6 linked regions of the Homo sapiens genome follow. The protein of the gene in region 1 interacts with the protein of each later gene in a pairwise test. Each region holds a gene or a part of one and is shown in the gene's direction. Other genes may lie near its edges.

Region 1 (2,872 bases):
TTGGTGCTGAAATGTTAGGTTGTGCAGACCCCAACCTCCCTGACTTCCTTCAGTAACTGACAGTGTAGCATTGTTCTTGATTAGTTTGGCACTCCATTACGTGGAGGCAGCACAGTGCAGACAGACCTAATGGCTCTGCCACTTACTAGCTGGTTTGGGCAAATGAATTTTCCCTTCTGTGCTTCAGTTTCTTCATCTTTAAAATGAGAATAATAATTTATACCACATAGAGTAGCTACTATTATGATATTGTCTGTGGCCACATCCTTCTCTTCCATTAGAAGAAGCCCTTCAAGGGCAAGGACCATGTCTTATCTACTTGCACTGTTCACCCTTCACATCAACCCTGTTACAGCACTCTGTTCTGCTGGACCACTTATTGTAGTTGTAGCTAATTGTGAAAGTATTTGTTTAATATCTGTCTTCTCCCTAAAATGTCAGCCTACTGAAGATGAACCATCTCTTTCATGTCTACCCATCTCCCAGTTGCATAGTACAGTGTCTGACAGGTCTTAGGAACAGCAAGGAGCTCAGTGTGGCTGGAGCAGAAAAAAATTGTCAGTACCTTTGCTCATGCCATGCCCTCAGCCTGGAATGCCCTTTGCTCTTTTAGCCTGTATACAAAATGTATTTCAAGGATCACCTCTTCCTGGAAGCCTTCCTCTTTTCCACCATCCAAAACCCTCTTAATACCCTGTGTACATCCCTGCCATTGCTCTTGCCAGATTGTGGTCTATGTTTGATCTGTGTCCCCAACTAGACAGGGAGTTCTCTGAGGACAGGATTTAATTCGATGGTATCATTAGAACCCAGCACATGGCCCTTAGACTGAGATTCAGAGATATGAAATGATTTACCCAAAATCACACAGCTCAGAAGCAGCAGAACTGACATTGGGACCCAGGTCCATTGGAGGCATCTTTTAGTTATGCGCTTGAGAAATCGTTGTTGCTGCACCTAGTTCCTTCCACATCCCTACAACTCGGACACTAACCCCCTCCTAAACATTCGTACACACACAAACACAAAACTTGCTGAACAAATGGCTGGATGAGTGAAACAGGAATGGAGCAAGCCAGTACAGTACCCCGGCCATATTTCTCTGTGTAGATGCGCTCAGTAACCAGCTGCGCCTCGCCATGGATGCACAGGCCACCCATCTGGCCAGGCTGGAGGAGTCCTGTCGTGCGGCCATGATGTGTGCCATGGCCAACGCCAACAAAGCGCAGGTATGGCCTGAGCCATGCAGTACCTTGGGCTCTCCCCAACTCCTGAACAAAATCCTGGAGAACCTTAGCCATATTCTTCCTCTTACATCCCCTCTTAAATCAGCATCAGCCCTCTCATCTGAGTACTCCCCCTTCACTGAAGGCCCCTCTTAGGGTACAAGTCACTTCTCCCCACCTCCAGAAGCAGGATGACTTGAGAATAGAACATTGCCCTCTCATCCTCCGCTTCCCAGTCTAAAGGCTTCCTGAAGGCAGAGAAGTTCCCTGCCCATTCTCCCCAACACATATTAGGGGCATTGAAAGGCCATGCAGTATCTGTTCTTTCTCCTTGAGATGGAAGAGTAGGGCCATGTTCCCCCCTCCCCTGTGACAGAGTTCCCTGAGGTTGGGCACCCAAATGTTTGCATTTGGGGGCTCCACCAGGCAGCTGTGCAGGCTGGGCGTCAGCGCTGTGAGCGTCAGCGTGAACAGAAGGCCAACCTTGCGGAGATCCAGCACCAGAGCACGAGTGACCTACTGACTGAAAACCCCCAGGTCGCCCAACACCCTATGGCTCCCTACCGGGTCCTGCCCTATTGCTGGAAGGGCATGACTCCAGAGCAGCAAGCTGCCATCAGGAAAGAGCAGGAAGTACAACGCTCTAAGAAGCAAGCACACCGTCAGGCTGAGAAAACACTGGATACTGAATGGAAAAGCCAGACCATGAGCTCAGCCCAGGCAGTGCTGGAGCTAGAAGAGCAGGAGAGGGAATTGTGTGCTGTATTTCAAAGGGGTCTAGGATCCTTCAACCAGCAGCTGGCTAATGAGCAAAAAGCCCAGTGAGTTCTAGGTGGTAGTGGTGGAGATAAATGCCAAGGGAGGGAGAGGAGGGATGGTGAGGAACCATGGAGAGAGGGAAAGCATGTCAGCTGAGACCTCTGGACTTCTTTCACAGGCAGGATTACCTGAATTCAGTAATCTACACCAATCAACCTACAGCCCAGTATCACCAGCAGTTTAACACCAGCAGCCGCTAAGTTCAGGATGTCTATCTCTCTCTCCCTTCTCCTCCATCAAGCTCACAGGTGGTTAGGAGTCAAAGAGAAAAATGCTGCATACTCCCACCTTCTAACCTAGGTAATAAAGTTCTGCACTCAAAATCAAGTCCACATGTTGTAACAGGACACAAAGTATTATGAAGGTACTGCCTTTCCCACCCCACCCTGGAGCTCTGAGCATCCAACCCTGTCACAGCCTTCACATTTCTTCCCCATGCCAGGCCCCCTAGCACACAACACTGCCTACACTCTGTGAGAAAAAGAGACTTTATTAGGCACAGAGGGCGACTGGTAGGCAGTTACAAAATGGCTACTGGGCTTCCTCCCAAGCTGGAGAGTAGTACCCCAGGGAAAGGAAGGGCAGAGGAGCGTGTGTTTTCTCTGCCTTCTCCCTTCAAGGCTGCATACGAATGGCCCCATCCAGCCGGATGACCTCTCCATTGAGGAATGGGTTCTCGATGATGGCCTGTACGAGGTGAGCATACTCAGCAGGGTCACCCAGTCGGCTAGGGAAGGGCACTTGGCTGGCCAAGAAGTTGCACACTTTCTCTGGGAGGCTGGTCAGCAGTGGGGTGCCAAACAGACCTAAACAATATAGCCAAATTC
Region 2 (3,500 bases), on another chromosome or scaffold:
CAGGTTACTAATGAGATCACAGTGGATTAGTGAATTTTCTACGTGGTAACAGCATATTAATTTCTAACCTTTCTAACAGAAAAAATCCATTAATTTTTTGCGGAAGTTAAACTTTCTTTTTGGGCTTCCAATTAGACCCACTGTGATAACCAGTTCACAATTCCTTCCTCCCTACTCTCCTCCTTTCCTCCCTTCCTTCTTGCTCCTCTTACTTTCCTTCTCCGACACAGATAAGAGGAAATAAAAAGGTTAGTCATTGAAGAAATGTGGGACTATCCAGGTTGCACACTGATCTCTTCTATTTCCCTCACTGAAATTGTCATTGTTAAAACAGATTGTTTCTTTAAGAAAATAAATAAATAAAGGAAAAGAGAAAACAAATTAAACAAAGCCTGTAGAGGCAATATGTTTAGGGAGTCTTGTGTGGAGCTTTCAGTGTGTTCTCTGCTGCATGTTAACTATCAAGGGTTGGGGCTGGGATATGAAATATTGTTCCTTATTTAATGTTTCACACTCTAATCTCTGCATTGCATATTTGCTTCTCTTGTGACCTTCTCTTTGCATTTATAACTGCTTCTTTTCACCTATAATCCGAAAATAAGTGTACATTCCTACAGAGAAATTAAAGGAGGCTGTCAGTGTAGAGTTAATATAGTTAAAGCATCCTTAACTCTGCGACAAACCCCTTAAATAATTAAAACTGTATGCTTGAAGAGTCAGATTTGCATTCCTTTACCAAGTTTATTTAGTACACTTTGTTACACTCAATTAAATGAGGATGTTCTGTTTCATTTTCTTTGCTTTGGGTTGATCATTTTGCCTTTTGATTCTTATGCCCTGGTGTAATTTCACAGTGCTTAGGTCTCTAAAACTATACATATATTAACGTATATGTAGATATATACATCCCATTAAAAGGCTTAATATTTGTACTGAATAGAATCTTTGCCCAAGGCATTTGAGCATTCCTGGTAACCTCAGGTGTAACTGGGACTGCAGATAATTCATCGCAGTAAAAACGAGTTTGACAAAGTTCTTTTAACATCCAGTGTCTTTTTTTTTTTTTAATTTTTAAAGCTCTGTTATTTTGGCATCACCTTCTCTCCCTACGGTTTGATTTGTGAATAGCAAAAACCAGAAGATACAGGTGTTGAATGGTTGTGGAAAGGAAATTAAATATAAGTGCTATCTCTCCACATCTCAGTTGGCAGAGCATGTGCAGACTGCTCTCTGTAAATTAGTTCATTGCTTAAGTTATGCATGTTTAAGAAGGAATAAATTAGTTATCTATTTCCTAATGAGTAGTGGGATCAATTGGAGCATGATGAGAGAGAAATAGCATAATTTTGCTTCCCCAGTTGAGGTTCAGTATCCCTAAACTTCACCATTAATCACTCTATCAGTTTCCTGGGTTATTTCAGATCTATATGTAAGATATTCATTCCTTTTAATTTTCCTACCAGGTAAGTAAGTCCTTTTGAATTTGCCCAGTGGGTTTGTAAATGGGTGATGCTGTCTCTGTTACACCCAGAAGTGTCCTTAATTACAGTGGGCCCTTCTGCCTTTGCGTCAGTTTGTCTGGGTGCATTCACGAATAATAATAAATATGTATGTGCGACGACAATTTCAAGGGTTCTAATATGTTTAACTGTTATGGGATCTGTTATGTCTACTTTAGGGTCGACCCCATCCCATATGACACTCCAAAACCAGCGGGCCACACGCGGTTTGTCTGCATCTCAGACACACACTCCAGAACAGATGGTATCCAGATGCCTTATGGGGACATCCTTCTCCACACAGGCGATTTCACCGAGCTGGGACTGCCCTCAGAGGTTAAGAAGTTTAATGACTGGTTAGGTAAGGAATGATTGCGTTCTGGCGGCCCCAATTAACCTTTCCCGTCCGAGTGTCACTCACTGCGTCCTAATTGAATTAGAGCACTTGGAAGCCAGCTCAGCCATTTCTCGTATGATATGCGGTGGTGTCTAGCTTTAATCCAATTCTGTTAATTAAAGATGAATTTTTAGATATTTAATTTTACTGTGCATCCTTTCAGTGCCTGGCCTTGGTGGCTCTGGGGCAAAGGGATGGAAAGCTTTGAAACCCATCTCATCTCACTCATTCTGCTTTAATGAGGGCATTCATTGGCACACAGGAGACCTAGAATCATATTTTTAATTCATTGGCTCTGCAATCTTTTTTTCCCCAGATATTATAAGCAAAGATATACAAATGACCTACTAGTAAGAGAACATTTCTAAGAAATGAAGGGGTTATAAAAGTCCTTATATGAAACAAAATTCCTATAGCACAGTGCTGCTTGGGAGCGGATTTCCTAAGTGAGCTGGAGGGTGTTCTAGACCCCTGAAAACATGAGATATATTACTGTAAAGTAAAAACTTGGGATGTGAAGTTGCCCTGTGTCCTGTAAAAAGGATAATAGCAATTTTCTGGATATTGTGGAGGCACCCACAGGTCAGTTACTGCAAAATATTGGATCCTGGTTCCTCTTAGCGGAGGGAAAGAAGTGCAAATGTTCTGAGATTTTAGAATCCCTAAAGACGAAAGAATTATATAGTAAAGAGCAGACGTCACTCTGGGAGCGTAACATTGTCAATAATATGTCAGCCAACAAAAATAACTTGGGAGATTTAGGCAAAAACATTACAACTTTGTTTTCCATCAAACTAAAGCAGGGTTTGAAAATTTTTTAAATTTTCGATTAAATGATAAGACGTGTTAGTGGAAAGATGATATTTTAGAATTGTAAGCAATAAACTTAACTAATAACATAATTATTTTGATTTTTCATGTGACTTTGCTCATCTGTTCACATTTTGTATGGTTGACATCTGAGTACATATCTGCTTTTTGACTTTTGGCTGTTTTCATTTAATAGTATTTATTGGTAAGACTTAAAACGTTTTTGCATAATTTTCATATTCTTTTTAATAGCAGCATGGCATTCATATGGTTGGCTATGCCTTTCTTTAATAAGACATCTCTCTAAAAATGAGCATTTAAATTGATAACAATTTTTCCTCTGGTAGCTAGCACTGAAATGTGCATTTTTGTTTGTGTATGTCGTTTTGTTTCTATTGATTTATTTCTTAGGGAAAAATACTATACTTAATTTGCTAAGTCAAAGGATATGAAATTCTTTATGGTTTTTGCTACATGTTGGCATGTTGCTTTTCAAGGGCACTGTAGCTGTGTGTTTCACTAGCAGTGAATGAATGTATAGGTACTAGTTTTATCATGGTCTTGGCAGCATTGGATGTTGGAGCATTTATATTTTGTGCTGTTTTAGTAGGTACTTAATCATGTTATTTAAAATGGCAAGATATTTTAAATATTATTTAGCATAATCTCATTTTTACAGATGACACAGAGATGTAGAGAAGTTAAGTGATTTTTTCAGTTTCATAGTGGCAGAGTTGGTTCTAAATCCAGATCTTTTCGCTTATGTCTTTTTTCTCTACAATAATCTCTTTATT
Region 3 (3,500 bases), on another chromosome or scaffold:
GGTCTGGAACTCCTGACCTCAGGTGATCCACCTGACTTAGCCTCCCAAAGTGCTGGGATTACAGGAGTGAGCCACTGCGCCTGGCATGTACTTGGTATTTCTGCTCTTAAACCTGTATAAGACATGCGTAGTTTTTGTAATGCAGACTAGCAATTTTTTTTTTTTGGAACGAAGTTTCACTCTTGTTGCCCAGGCTGGAGCGCAATGGTGTGATCTCGGCTCACTGCAACCTCTGCCTCCCGCGTTCAAGCGATTCTCCTGCCTCAGCCTCTTGAGTAGCTGGGATTACAGGTGCCCACCACCACGCCCAGCTAATTTTTGTATATTTAGGTGAGACGGGGTTTCACCATGTTGACCAGTCTGGTCTTGAACTTCTGACCTCAGCTGATCCACCCACCTCGGCCTCCCAAAGTGCTGGGATTACAGGCATGAGCTGCCACGCCTGGCCAGCAATTTTTTTCTTGATTTACTTTTTGAAAATAAAAACCATAAGAAAATAATATTAAAATTATTTTCAAATGCTATTTCAAAAAATATAGGCCATCAGTTCTTTGTAATACTCATCATTTTACATATTATTGAAGTGCTAGGTTTTAAATATATATGGCATTGTAAATTTATGAGTTTATTGACTTAAGTCATATTATTGAAATTTGTTGGGAGTACATTAGCAAACATTTGATTATTAAGCCTTGCAGGAGTTTAAAATTTGGAGTAGAAATTGTGCTCTTACATACAGGAATTTTCAACTAATTTTTATAAGTGTTGTGCATATACAATTAAATAGAACCATGTAATTGTAACTTTCTAATTGGAATGACTTAAGAATTCAAACTATTTTCCTCCTTCCTTAGCCAGAATGGTACTTGGCTCAAGTACTTATGTGGATTGGAAACCATACTGAATTTCTGGATGAGAAGATTCAGCCAATATTAGACAAAGTAGGCTCTTTGGTAAACGCAAGGGTAAGAGACTCAGTCATAAGTGTTTCTGTTTTAGAACTGTATGTGTGCATGGATAACTTTTTATTTACATACCTCATGTTTGTGTATTTTTTTAGCTTGAATTTTCTCGGGGCCTTATGATGCTGGTTCTTGAGAAGTTAGCCACTGATATTCCTTGTCTGCTATATGATGACAATCTCTTCTGTCATTTGGTGGATGAAGTACTCTTGTTTGAAAGGGAGCTACACAGTGTTCATGGCTATCCTGGCACTTTTGCTAGTTGTATGCATATTCTATCAGAGGAAACCTGTTTTCAGAGATGGTTGACGGTGGAGAGAAAATGTAAGTGCTGATGTGGCCAGATGGTAGGGAGATATGTCTGTTTCTGTGGGTATACATTTTTGATATTTTTCTTCTCCAGTTCTAAATAGGAACTAGAGCCATTTGAAATTTCCTTTTCAGGGTTTTCTGTTTCCTTCAGAGATAATCTTTTCTTTACTTCACATGAAACTTCCATTTTTCCTGAAATTACACTCTACATATTTCTAGAGTGGAATAGTCAAGCCAGTGGGGTGTTTGTTTTATAGATTTTATCATATAATTTATTTTATTTTTATTTATTTATTTTGGGACAGACTCTTGCTCTGTTGTCCAGGCTAAAGTGCAGTAGTTTGATCTCAGCTCATTGCAACCTCCACCCCCTGCGTTCAAGCGATTCTCCTGTCTCAGCCTCCCGAGTAGTTAGGATTACAGGCACGCACTACCACGCCTGGCTAATTTTTCTGTTTTTAGGAGTGACAGGGTTACAACATGTTGGCCAGGCTGGTCTGGAACTCCTGACTTCAAGTAATCCACCTGCCTTGGCCTCCCAAAGTGTCAGAATATTTTATTTTTTTATTTTTGAGATAGGGTCTCACTTTGTCACCGAGGCTAGAGTGGAGTGGGCCGATCATGGCTTACTGCAGCCTCGACCTCTGGGGCTCAGGTGATCCTCCTGCCTCAGCCACCCCAGTAGCTGGGAGTATAGGTATATGCAAGCCATGCCTGGCTACTTTTTGTATTTTTTGTAGAGATGGGGTTTCCCTGGGGTTTTGCCCAAGCTGGTTGTGAACTCCTAGACTCAAGCAATCCACCCACCTTGGCCTCCTGGAGTGCTGGGATTACTGGTGTGAGCCACCGTGCCTGGCCAATAGAATATTTTTTACTGTAGCTTATCTAGTCAACATAACTATTTTCAGAATTTGGGGATGGGAGTAAAGTATCCTGTTTAAAGCATTAATTAAGTTAAATTTAGTACAACCAGTGGGATATTGTAGGTTTGTTTCTTTTTTATAGAAAAGCCATCATTCCTAAAAAATTACAAGTTGAATAATTAGGAACGACTGTAACTACTTAATTGACATAATTGTTTTGTCTGCTTATCAGTTGCTCTTCAAAAAATGGACTCAATGCTTTCCTCAGAAGCTGCCTGGGTATCGCAATATAAGGATATCACTGACGTGGATGAAATGAAAGTTCCAGATTGTGCAGAAACTTTTATGACTCTACTCTTGGTTATAACTGGTAAGTATGTCTTTTAAGATATGACTTTGTTTTAAAAGTACTGTTTTCACGTGGTAGTTTTTAAAGTAGCTCAGTAGGCTGGGTGCAGTGGCTCATGCCTGTAATCCTAGCACTTTGAGAGGCTGAGACGGGCAGGTTGCTTGAGCCCAGGAGTTCGAGAACAGCCTGGGGTACATGGTGAAATGCCCTCTCTTCCGAAAAAATACAGAAATTAGCCAGTTGTGGTGGTGTGTGCCTGTAGTCCCAGCTACTTGGGAGGCTGAGGTGGGAGGATTTTTTGAGCATGGGAGGTAGAGGTTGCAGTGAGCCATGATCACGCCACTGCAGTCCAGCCTTGGTGACAGAGTGAGACCCTGTCAATAAAGTAATCAATAAATAAGTGGCTCAGCAAATTAATATTATATGATGGTTGTTATCTTCAAATTCAGTTTCTATATTGGTAGAAATCTAACACAATATTCTAACTTTTGGGTTTTTAATAATTTAAGGATTTAAACATTGGTATACATGAAGGAAAACTTCCTGAATAATTACACAAAAACAATTAAATAGGAATTTAATTTTATTATCCAAACTGTCTTGCTATTGGGCTTTTTAGGTGTCTTCAGTAAATGGTGATTGGCCTATATTTTAAATATTGTCTTGATCTTGATTTATCAAAGATTGCAGAAGAGAGTAAAATAATGAAGTAATTTTAAGGATTGGAGTAGTAATAGGAACTTTTGTTACAGTGCAGGGATTCTCTGGCTGGAGGGTAGCCTAGCATCCTCTGGCCCTGGTTGGTCTTTAGCCAATCACGTTGCCCCCTTGTGGGCCTGCTTGTTGTCCAGGTGCCACTGGACCCTCATTGCCACCATCCCTGGCCCTCTTCACCTTCGTCAACCACTAGCCTGTCCGTTTCTTAGGCTTGTCTGGTAACCTGAAGAAGTATCATTCCAGCCCAGTCAGTAAATAATTCCTTTTTTTTTTTTTTTTTTTTTTTTTGAGATGGAG
Region 4 (3,500 bases), on another chromosome or scaffold:
TTGAACCTGGGAGGTGGAGATTACAGTGAGCCAAGATCGTGCTACTGCATTCCAGCCTGGGCGACAGAACGAGACTCTGTCTCAAAACAACAAAAAAAGTGGTAGTATTAACAAGTTTCATAGGTGTCTAATATTTTCTTTTTATATTTATTATAAAGATACTATGAAAAGCATTAAAAATATTTAGAAGATAGAGGGGAAATATTTATTCAACTTCCTTAATGGATGAATAATTTTTTCCTGTGGGGCAATTTCTGTTTTGTTGTTGTTTTGTTGTTGTTTATGCATACCTATATATTTCTTAACACATTTGCAAATCCTAGAATTAGACCACTGTGACTCACATAGAGCATGTGTAGGTTTTTTCCTTTGTTAAAAATGAACATAATTATGATTTAACCACATGGAAGTTACTGTTCAATGTTAATATTATAATGATACCAGAAGATACATTTAAAATTTCATTATTTGCCTTTTAGTTATCCAAGCATTAGGTGAACATCTTAAATTAAGACAACAAGTTATTGCCACTGCTACGGTATATTTCAAGAGATTCTATGCCAGGTAGGATTGTTTTTATTTTATTTATTTGAACTCTTATCTAATGTTGATGAACCTTAGCACAGTGTAAATGAATCATGTGTCTACCATAGAGTTATCTTGATTTTTTTCCCAGTGTGTTTTCTGTATGAATGATATTTAACTTTGTTTTATCATATTTTAGGTATTCTCTGAAAAGTATAGATCCTGTATTAATGGCTCCTACATGTGTGTTTTTGGCATCCAAAGTAGAGGTATAAAACAATTTTCTGTTCTTCATCAAAGTGTAGTCAATGTATGTTGGTTAATCTGCCCCAGTTTTCACATGGCCTATGTAAAATTAATAAATGGTAATTTATGCAAAATACTAAAATTGTACAAAATCAAAGAAATATATACATATCCTTATATATTCACTTAACAGACACATACAGCACTTACTGTGTACCAACTGACTTAATCTTTGTAACAAACTGGAATACATAGTAGTAGTATTCCCATTTTATAAATGAGGAAACTGAGACAGAGATGAAGAACTTGCTTAAGATGATATAGCTAGTAAGTGTGAGAGCCCGTGTTTGAACCATGGGAGTCTCGTTACCAATCCTGTGTTCTTAACTACTTTCCTCTGCTGCCTTTGAGACATCTATTGTTTGGCACTGAGTAGTATTCAGTAAGTACCACAGCTTGCCTACCATAACCTGAGAATGTCCCTTATGCTTCTCACCCATATGCTTATCTTCTCCTGTCTTCCCTCCCATCATCCTGATGATTGGCTGCCTACCAAGCCAGAAGGAAGGCAAGGATTAGGGGAAGCTATAGCTATATAGAGTCTAACAAGTAAAAGTTGAGGTTGTGAGCGTAGAGAAATTAGGTAAGGGAGAGAAGATAGATAGGAACTTGCGGCAGAGACTGAATTTCTGTTCAACTGTTTTACCTTTGTAGTATTTTTGAAAGAGCTCAGCTAAAGTCCAGAAAATAATAGCAGATATTGGCTGTTTTTCATAAATAATGTAGTCTTTGGTGGTGTGAAATCTTTGCATTATGTTTCTATTTTTGGATAATGTCTTAGAGTTCTATTCTTAGAGTTGTATTCTTGAATATTGAATGTGATTTTTACCTAGTAAGTTTACATTCCTTTTGGCACCCACTTTGATTTAGTTTTGTTTTAGCCATGATTTAAGGTTATCCATGACATCTTTCCCAACTGTTACCTAAATAATGACAATTGACTCTGTTAGAAATAATATTAAGACAAGCTTTCTAGAAGTTTATGTTTTCTAATTGTGAGTGGTAGTTTAAGAAGGCAGAATCAGTTAAGGTCCTTATTATGGATTGAGTTTTCTAATTCTAATAATTCTATGTAATATTTGATTTTATTTAAATATTACCATGTAATAATTTAAAGTCTCTTAAGCACAGGCAGTATGGAGGACCAAGACAAAAAATCTTTATAAACATTTAATCTTGTAGATTAATTTGAGGATTTTAATCTATCTTACTTGTTAAATATTGTTATGTGATTTACTGAGTAGAACTCTGTGATGTGATTTACTGAATGAAAGTTTTCCCTTTGAGTTTTGGATAAAGAATTATTCCTAGGCCGGGTGTAGTGGCTCACACCTGTAATCCCAGCACTTTGGGAGGCTCAGGCGGGTGGATCACCTGAGGTCAGGAGTTTGAGACCAGCCTAACCAACATGGCAAAACCCCGTCTCTACTAAAAATACAAAAATTAGCCGGATGTGGTGGCAGATGCCTGTAATCCCAGCTACTAGGGAGGCCGAAGCATGAGAATTGCTTGAACCCATGAGGTGGAGGTTGCAGTGAGCCAAGACTATGCCACTGTACTCCAGCCTGGGTGACAGAGCAAGATTGCATCTCAAAAAAAAAAAAAAAAAGAATTATTCCTGAGAAAGAGAATGTAGTCTTTCAGATTTGGTCGTAGCATTATTATTATTTTTTTTTTATCTCTGTGACCAAATCTTTCTGTATTTTCTCTAGTTTTATGGAAATTGTATGGAAAGCTCATTTAAGAACATGTCTCAGGCTTTTACTTTTTCTTTTCAGTTATTATAGTTGGAGGTTTAAATGTAAAACAAATATATTAGTACACATACATTTCCCCTACACAGGATAAGGATGTAGGCTGAAGGTATTTAAATAGATTTTTAGTTTAGCTCCTTTTGTTGGATAAGAAACCAACTCTTGATTTTTTTATTTTAAAATGAAGTGAAGGCTTTAGAAATCTTACGAGGCAATAAATGAAACAGTATATATAAGGTGGATCATAATAAATTTTAGTATTTTCACAATGGTGGTTGTTCAGTTGAAAGAGGAAATGGGAACTGACTTTGGAAGTCTTACGTAATTCCTGTCTCCCTGTTCTAAAAAGGATAGTAACTATTTATATGGTTTTTTTTTTTTTTTAGTTCTTTTGGTGATTAATTAAGGTTTATCTTATTCACAAATTCAACTGTTTTACCATAGAATGGCATGAAGTATCTGTTAATACAGGTTGAATTGAATAGGAAACATACTTAATATTCTTGCAATTAAGTATAGAATGTAAACAATCTTCTTGGAAACTAATTTAAATGGAAAAACTGACACTGTAACCTTAAGGCTTGGTTTCTAATTTGGTACCTTTTATTGTTATTAAATTATAAAATTATTTTAAAATATGTCTTAAGTTGTAGCAATTTGGGGGAGAGGTAATACAGGCAGAATATCCGTAATCTGAAAATCCTAAATGCTCCAAAATTTGAAACGTTTTGAGGGCCAACATGACATTCAAAGGAATGCTCATTGGAACATTTTGCATTTCAGATTTTTAGATTAGGGATGCTCAACCAGTGTAATGCAAAATATTCCTAAATCAGAAAAATCTCTGATCCTAAGCATGTCAGATAAGGGGTAATCAGCCTGTACATTTAGGAGTGTAAGTACTTCACACCTCAA
Region 5 (3,500 bases), on another chromosome or scaffold:
ACCGCATCAGGAGCTGCGGAGGGGTGGGATCGAGGCCAGGCCAGCATGGCGGAGGTGGCAGCCGCCAGAAAATGGCGCCTACAAGCCAGTTCTTCTTGGCCTCAGGGACAGCACAGGCCTGAGGTTCACCCTGAGCCCTTCCCACCCGCATCCTGAGTGGCGCTGCAGGGCTGCTGGATGAAGGACAGGAGGTGGTCGCCTGTTGCCCCACTGGCTGCTCCAGGGCCTCCACCCCCACCTCCCCCTGGAGCCCTCGGTGCAGGGAGGGCTTCTGTCCTCAGACCCAAGTAGGAGAGGGCTGCTGGGAGGCGAGAGGGCATCAGCCAGAGGGCTGGGCTGGGCTGGGCTGGGCTGGGCTGTGGGAGCCCTATGTGCCTGGGGCAGTAATCAGGCAAGGCCCAAGGCCATGCGAGGCCACCGTGGTGACCTCATTCATGGACCGCTGGTCGTCCCATGCCGGTCAGCAGTGCTGCAGACACAGGACAGAACGTCCCCTGCAAAGCGAAAAGACTAATAGGTGCCAGGGGGGTGGTGCCAGGTTGGGCCGACTTCCTGAGGTGGCTGGCAGGTGGGTGAGGGGCAGGCTTGGGGGGAGCAGCTGCCCCACCCATGTGTCCCCCACTCCCAAAGGTCTTGAGTTTGCCAGCCCCCGAGAAGGGATGCCTGCCTCCCAGAACGTACCTGGTGCCCCCCAGGCCTGCTAAGGACCAGGCTGGGAACACCAGGCTTGGATGTGGTGCTGGGCTGCCGGAGTTTCTTTTTCTTATCTTATTTTTAATAATTAAATGTTTTTATAGAGATAGGGCCTCACTATGTTGCCCAGGCCAGTGTCAAACTCCCAGCCTCAAGCGATCCTCCCATCTCGGCTTCCAGAAGTGCTGGGATTATAGGCGTGAGCCACCGTGCCCAGCCATCCCCTGGGTTTTTGTGCCACAGTGCTCATGGGTTTCTGACGATGACCTCTCCTGGGAAATTGGGGGTGCATGTCAGCCACCGCAGAGGCTGAAGACAGAGGAAGGAGCAGAGGCTCTGGGGCCCTCAGCGAGTCCGTGGGACAAGGTGCTGTGACCGATGGCAGTGGGTGGGTAGGGGATGGGCTGGAATGTGCCCCCCAGGATGTCCAGGCCTATTTCTACCCATGGCCGGGGTTTCCTAAGGGTGGGGAGCTCTGCCGAGAGCTCCTGCGGCACCCCTAGTACCCTCCTGTGTCCCTGGCTCGGCACTGCCACCATCTGGGACCCCAGCAGCAACTGGCAGCAGGGCTGGGAGCAGCTCTGGAAAGGCTCCGCGGAGGCTGCGGCTCTGGGTCCTCCCGACGTTTTCTTTCTTGGAGCCAAGGAAAAGGGGGGCCGGAGTGGGAGGACGCTGGAACAATGCAGCTTCTGTCCCTCTCTGGCTCCTCTGTGCCGCCCCGAGTGCGGGACCCCTTCCAGCCGGCCGGACGCCTCCTCCCCCAGGGCTGGGGAAGGGTCCTCCTCCCCGCCCAGGGCAGCCCGGCAGCCTGGCTGGGGCCGCCGCCCGGCTGCCGCTGTGGGAGGCAGGCTGCACACCTAGAGCCTGGGCGGCCCTGGGTGAGACCCCGGCTCAGCTGAGCCTGGCAGGGACAGGGCCTTGAGGCCGGGAGTCTGGACCCGGCGTTGCGGGTTGGGGGCGCCACGGAAGGACCCACGCAGCCTCCCCATTCGGCAGGTGCGGAGGGCGGGGTGGATCTGCGAGCTGCGGGAGGGGAGGGGGGTGCAGAGCCGCGCTAGAGCCTGGCCGTGCGGAGGGGGCGCCAGGGCTGGGGGCACAGGAGGGCGCTGCCCAGCGGGGTGTGGGCAGGGAGGAGGAAGTCGTCTGGAGGTGGGGCTTCAGCCCGGCGGGGACGCGGTGGGGCGTGGCCTTGCTGTTGTGGGCGTGGTCCATGGGGGCGGTGGGCGTGGCAGAGGCTGGTGGGTTTGGTGTCCCGTTGATAAACACAAGGAGACTTACGTGCGGCTGGAGGACAAAGAGCCTTGGCGCGGCTCAGTCAGCGTATTAATCTCACCGCCCTCTGCTGGCCCCTCCCCAGCCAGCAGAGAAGCCCCAGAAGTGTGTCTGGGGGTCACCACCCTGCCAGCCACTGCCCTTGTCCAGCTCCTCTGGGTGTGTGGCCTCTATGAGACCCTGACAGCAACCAGCCCCCACCTCCCTGGCCAGAGGGCACAGGCCCGGGCCTCCCACACTTGCTCCTGGGCTGCCCACCCCCCACCCCAGCAAGGGTGCCAGGCAGGACGGAGGCTCTGCTGCCACTCTTGGTGCGGGCAGCATGATTGGCATGTTGGGAGGAGGGAGCCGGCCCTGAGCCCTGCAGGACCGCCCCCTGCCCTTGGCCTGTCCCCGATGGCCCTGCCTGTCCCACAGGATGTGCGACTGCCCTCGGCCCTGCTGACCGTACTTCTCAGCCCTCCACCGTCTGGGCCCTGCTCAGGGCGTTGTGAGCACGGTACACAAGAGTTACTGGGGGAGCATGCCACCAGCCTTCCTGGGAGAAGTCCCCTGAACGTCCCAACGAGTGGCCTTGGGGTCAGGGATGTGCATGGCATAACCTCCCCTGCAGTTTAGGCTGTGGGCTCCAGCCCTGGCCAGCTGATCAAGTGACTTGACCCACTTGTGCCTCAGTGTCCCCATCTGGGGAACGGGCCCATCAGTAGTGCTGGGAACAGAGCTTGGCAGGGGTGAGAGGCCAGCGAGCCTGAGGGCCCGTAAGCCTGTTGCGTTCGGGCCCTGGGTGGACGAGGCAGGTGTGGCTGCAGCACCATCCGCCTGTTCCAGCAGCCCAGTGGCCCTTGGGCAGCCGCCGGGATGGAGGATGCACCCTCTGTCCGTGCGCCTAAGAGGGCCCAGAGGGGACAGTGTGTGGGAAATGGCACACAGGGTCCCGCACGCAGCAGATACACAGTAAATGCCTGCTGCTTGGTCACCAGGCTCCTGCCGTGTGCCAGGCACTGCTGGGGCCCTCACTGGCACCAAGACCGCTGAGCCGCGTCCAGCAGCTGATAGGTGAGGAACGGGGAGCCCAGGAGTGAGCCACATGGGATGAGCTTTGGGAGAAAGAAAAGCCCAACAGGGAGGTGCGGACAGGAACGGGGGAGGTGCGGACAGGATCGGGGGGAGGCGCGGACAGGAGCGGGGGGAGGCGCGGACAGGAGCGGGGTGGGGGCGCGGACAGAAGCGGGGTGGGGCGCAGACAGGAGCAGGGGAGGCGCGGACAGGAACAGGGGAAGCAGGCTGCAGCACCTTTGGGAGATGACCATCATGGTCCATTCCGACTGCCCTCACAAAGCACCGCAGGCCGGGGCAGCAACAGCAGACGTTTACTCCTCACGGCTCTGGAGGCCAGAAGGCCAGGGTTTGGGTGCTGTGTGCTCGGGTGCTGGCGAGAGCCTCTTCCGGGCTGGCAGACGGCGCTTTCTTGTTGTGTCCTCACCTAGCAGAGACAGCGAGGAAGAAGGGGGAGCTTGAGAACACTGGTGGCTTCT
Region 6 (3,500 bases), on another chromosome or scaffold:
TGGCCAAAGTCACCCAGCTGGTAGAATGGCAGGACCAGGATTCAAAATGTAGTTAGCGTCGTCCAGCATCTGTGTGCGTTGCTATCATGCTGACTGCTCAGTTCATGCAGAGACATATTGCATTCCAGGAGGGAAGACTCGGTCTCATCAAATGATCCAACATAACTGGACTGAGCTCTCTGGCAGGGGCTGAAATGCAAAGCGTCTGTCCGAGGTGAATGTCAGTAGAATGGCACACAGCCACGGAGCTGCCGGTTTCCCACGAGTGCACTTAATCATACAGAGGTCCAAGTAGCATGAGGCTCCATCTTGAGATTCACCTGTCAGGGATCGGAGCAGGAGCCGCACCCATCACTTCTCCTCTGCATTCCCTCCTCTAAGTCCGCTAGCACAGATGTGATGGAGTGGCAGGACAGATCCTTCCTAACTCAACCCTCCTGTCCTCCTCTCTTAGATCCAGGAGATGGTCCACTCGGAAGTGGCTGCCTATGACTCGGGCCGGCCCGGGCCCCTGCTGGGTCGCCCGGCAATGCTGGCCAGCCACATGAGTGCCCTCAGCCAGTCCCAGCTCATCTCGCAGATGGGCATCCGGAGCAGCATCGCCCACAGCTCCCCATCACCGCCGGGGAGCAAGTCAGCGACCCCCTCTCCCTCCAGCTCCACTCAGGAAGAGGAGTCGGAAGTGCATTTCAAGGTATGTGCGGTGGAGGAACAGAGCCTGAAGCTGCCCTCCTGTCGGCAGGGAAGGGGTCCTGTGGGGAAATGGGCATCACCTCCCTCTAGTAAAGACTAGAAAAGCCTGATGTCCCAAGGTCCCCGTAGGTGCCATTCCCACTGAGCAGGCGTTCCTGGTGGCGGTTGGGATGTCCGCCACAGAGCTCAGTGGTTTTCTGTTAAGACCCCCAGGCCACGCTGGAAGCCAAGGAAAAAGCACATTGGCAGGTGGAGCACCTGGTCAGGGGGGATGGCACCTATGGGGCTTTGTGGCATCGGGCTTTGGCTGCTCCAAGTGCTGAGCGTCCTTGACAAGCTGTGTTCCCTCGGGGCTCCCACAGCCTTGTGCGTAAAGCAGAGAAAATTCCAACAAATGTTGAGGGGATGGGGTGAGAAGATCCTGTGAAAGTTGGCAAAGACTGACTCCTGAAGGCCAGTGGGCGATTTCAGAGGTGTGGACGGCTTCAGCAAGGCCATCGGGGTCACATTTATGGCCATTTGGCCCTTTTAGGAGAAAATATTCTGACAAAACTGTGTGGTCCAGAAGACAGCACCTCTGGGCCTAGAGTATTCACTGACCTTGAGGGTGGGGTGCAAAAATGACCGCCCCACTGGGAACATGCATTCCCCCAACATTCCTGGAGTCTAGAGTGGTTTGACCTCCTCAAGAACATGGTAGGGATGAGAGCCCGCCACCTGTCCGGGCTCTGGCCCTTCTTTGCATTGACTCCAAATCCACCTCCCGGTGAGAGAACATCTTGTCTTACCAGGGAGGAAAACAGAGGCCCAGAAATGCCAAAGACAGAAGTGTTTGCCCAGGGCCTCCCAGCGAGCTAGTGGCAGAATTAAGACTTATCTCCCTCCGTGCCTCCTGCCTCTGTCGATCCAGTGTCCTTTCCACGTGGTGGCCTCCCGAGGCCTAGGGCAGTAACCCTGGACTTTGGGGGAAGAGGGGTTTACTTCTGGATCCTGGCCCAGCTTCATCCTAAGGATGACTCGACCTCTATTATAGTCCATGCAGGAACGGTTTTTATTTAACAAACACTCTCTATGGGCCAGACACTGCTCTAAACACATAACAAGTATACGTCCATGTAATCCTCATAAAAGTCCTATAGGGCAGGGACTGTTATTATCTCTGTTTGGCAGATGGGGACACTGAGGCACAGAGAGGTTAAGTAATGTATCTGGTGTCACACAGCTAGTAAGTGGGGGGAACCAGGATTCAAACCCAGGAGGCTGCAGGTGCAGTCCAGTGTATGTGCCCTCAACCCCCTGCCCTGCTGTGCCTGTTCAGGACTTTATCAATGACAACATGCCTCTTCATCCCTGATCTTGCTAGGGTCACACCACGGTGCTAACACAACTGGGGCTTGGAGAAGGGAGTAGCTGCAGAGATAAGCCTCAGGAACAGAACCATGTCCTTCAGACATGGATGCCTGATCATGCCTACTGGCCCATGGCTTTGTCATCAGGTCAACATGTCACCTCCATCTTCTTGGCTCCTAGAGCCAGAGTCTTCACTACAGGGTCCAGGGCTTTTGACCAAAGTCCCCTGTTCCTACATGGCTTGAGTGACCCAACAGAGACCCACTGAGGTCTGTGGTGGGCATCCCAACACCACCCCATCCTGGAAGCCCTAAGTCAAGTGTTCACAGGATCATGGTCCTGCAGTCTGTCCAGAGTGAAGCCACTGGTTCCAGGGCTGACGCAGTAACAGTCGCTTTAGCCTCGTGCCCTCCCCACTTCACAGGGTCAAGGGACTAAGCCACCTGCTCAAAGCTGCACAGCTGAAACATGGCGGTGGAGACCAGCCTTTTGTAATGCAGGATCCTTTTTGGGGATTGTGCTCACAAGTGGGAGGGCAGATATATACACACACACACACACACACACACACACACACATATATATATACACACATATATATACAGACATATATATACTATATATACACATATATATACATATATACTATATATATACATATATACTATATATACACACACATATATATACTATATATACACACACATATATATACATATACACACACACACACACGTATATACACATATACACACATGCACACACACTCCAAACTTGGAAATAGGCCCCCAAATAACTGCACATTCTTTCAATGTCATACCAAAGCCTTGGCTAACAGGCTCACTCAATAATTATCTGATTCCCTAGGAAACTGGACCTTTGCTTTGATTCATTATTCACTATTGATTAGGGGATTTCACAACTCTGTAAAAGAAGATGTTACCTTGGGCGGGGGAGGGGAAGTGATAAGAGATGTAAGGGATTTTTGTCTGATTATAAGGCAAATTAACTTTGCCCGGTAGAGATGCAAATTTCTGTCCAGTAGAAAAGATTAAAAGTCCCAAAGGTGATAGTTTCAGCGCTCTATTGGGCACTAACCAGTTTCACGTGTAATTTAGTAATCTAATTCCAGCATTCTTTCCATTCTTTCAGTGACTATACAGTCCGTCTTCTCCTCCTGCATTTCTCTGAATCAACTTTACAATCATGCTGATTCTCTTTAATGAGTTAAACACCCACCCAGGGTGTGTGTGTCTGTCTGTCCATTGCCCCCTCCATCGCGCGAGTGGTTATCTGTGCATGAGCAGGGCTGGAGAAGTGCAGCTCGGCCCAAGTCTGTGTTGATCGCCTTTGGCAGGAGGCCCTTGGGCTTCTTTGGTTTTCTGACTCTTCTCACTCGGGCAGATCTCGGGAGAAAAGAGACCTTCAGCCGACCCAGGAAAAAAGGCCAAGAACCC

What was found.
Region 2: the proteins of RIBC1 (region 1) and MPPED2 interact in binary tests that used the Homo sapiens proteins (3 or more experiments, as listed by UniProt).
Region 3: the proteins of RIBC1 (region 1) and RINT1 interact in binary tests that used the Homo sapiens proteins (3 or more experiments, as listed by UniProt).
Region 4: the proteins of RIBC1 (region 1) and CCNC interact in binary tests that used the Homo sapiens proteins (3 or more experiments, as listed by UniProt).
Region 5: the proteins of RIBC1 (region 1) and GPSM1 interact in binary tests that used the Homo sapiens proteins (3 or more experiments, as listed by UniProt).
Region 6: the proteins of RIBC1 (region 1) and TOX2 interact in binary tests that used the Homo sapiens proteins (3 or more experiments, as listed by UniProt).

Annotation. Positions count from the first base shown.
Region 1 is NC_000023.11:53,428,744-53,431,615, forward strand, and holds the end of RIBC1 (RIB43A-like with coiled-coils protein 1), read left to right. Parts: exon of another isoform or gene 1-1,085; intron 1,086-1,110; coding exon 1,111-1,229; intron 1,230-1,652; coding exon 1,653-2,047; coding exon of another isoform or gene 2,048-2,051; exon of another isoform or gene 2,052-2,163; coding exon 2,164-2,245; 3' UTR 2,246-2,372; downstream 2,373-2,872. Other genes in the region: HSD17B10 (3-hydroxyacyl-CoA dehydrogenase type-2), read right to left, coding at 2,661-2,851.
Region 2 is NC_000011.10:30,534,354-30,537,853, reverse strand, and holds part of MPPED2 (metallophosphoesterase MPPED2), read left to right. Parts: intron 1-1,678; coding exon 1,679-1,860; intron 1,861-3,500. UniProt on the Homo sapiens protein: Displays low metallophosphoesterase activity (in vitro). May play a role in the development of the nervous system.
Region 3 is NC_000007.14:105,549,201-105,552,700, forward strand, and holds part of RINT1 (RAD50-interacting protein 1), read left to right. Parts: intron 1-854; coding exon 855-965; intron 966-1,060; coding exon 1,061-1,286; intron 1,287-2,369; coding exon 2,370-2,507; intron 2,508-3,500. UniProt on the Homo sapiens protein: Involved in regulation of membrane traffic between the Golgi and the endoplasmic reticulum (ER); the function is proposed to depend on its association in the NRZ complex which is believed to play a role in SNARE assembly at the ER.
Region 4 is NC_000006.12:99,558,661-99,562,160, reverse strand, and holds part of CCNC (cyclin-C), read left to right. Parts: intron 1-479; coding exon 480-564; intron 565-724; coding exon 725-794; intron 795-3,500. UniProt on the Homo sapiens protein: Component of the Mediator complex, a coactivator involved in regulated gene transcription of nearly all RNA polymerase II-dependent genes.
Region 5 is NC_000009.12:136,341,039-136,344,538, forward strand, and holds part of GPSM1 (G-protein-signaling modulator 1), read left to right. Parts: coding exon of another isoform or gene 1-122; exon of another isoform or gene 123-800; intron 801-3,500. UniProt on the Homo sapiens protein: Guanine nucleotide dissociation inhibitor (GDI) which functions as a receptor-independent activator of heterotrimeric G-protein signaling.
Region 6 is NC_000020.11:44,050,852-44,054,351, forward strand, and holds part of TOX2 (TOX high mobility group box family member 2), read left to right. Parts: intron 1-454; coding exon 455-694; intron 695-3,447; coding exon 3,448-3,500. UniProt on the Homo sapiens protein: Putative transcriptional activator involved in the hypothalamo-pituitary-gonadal system.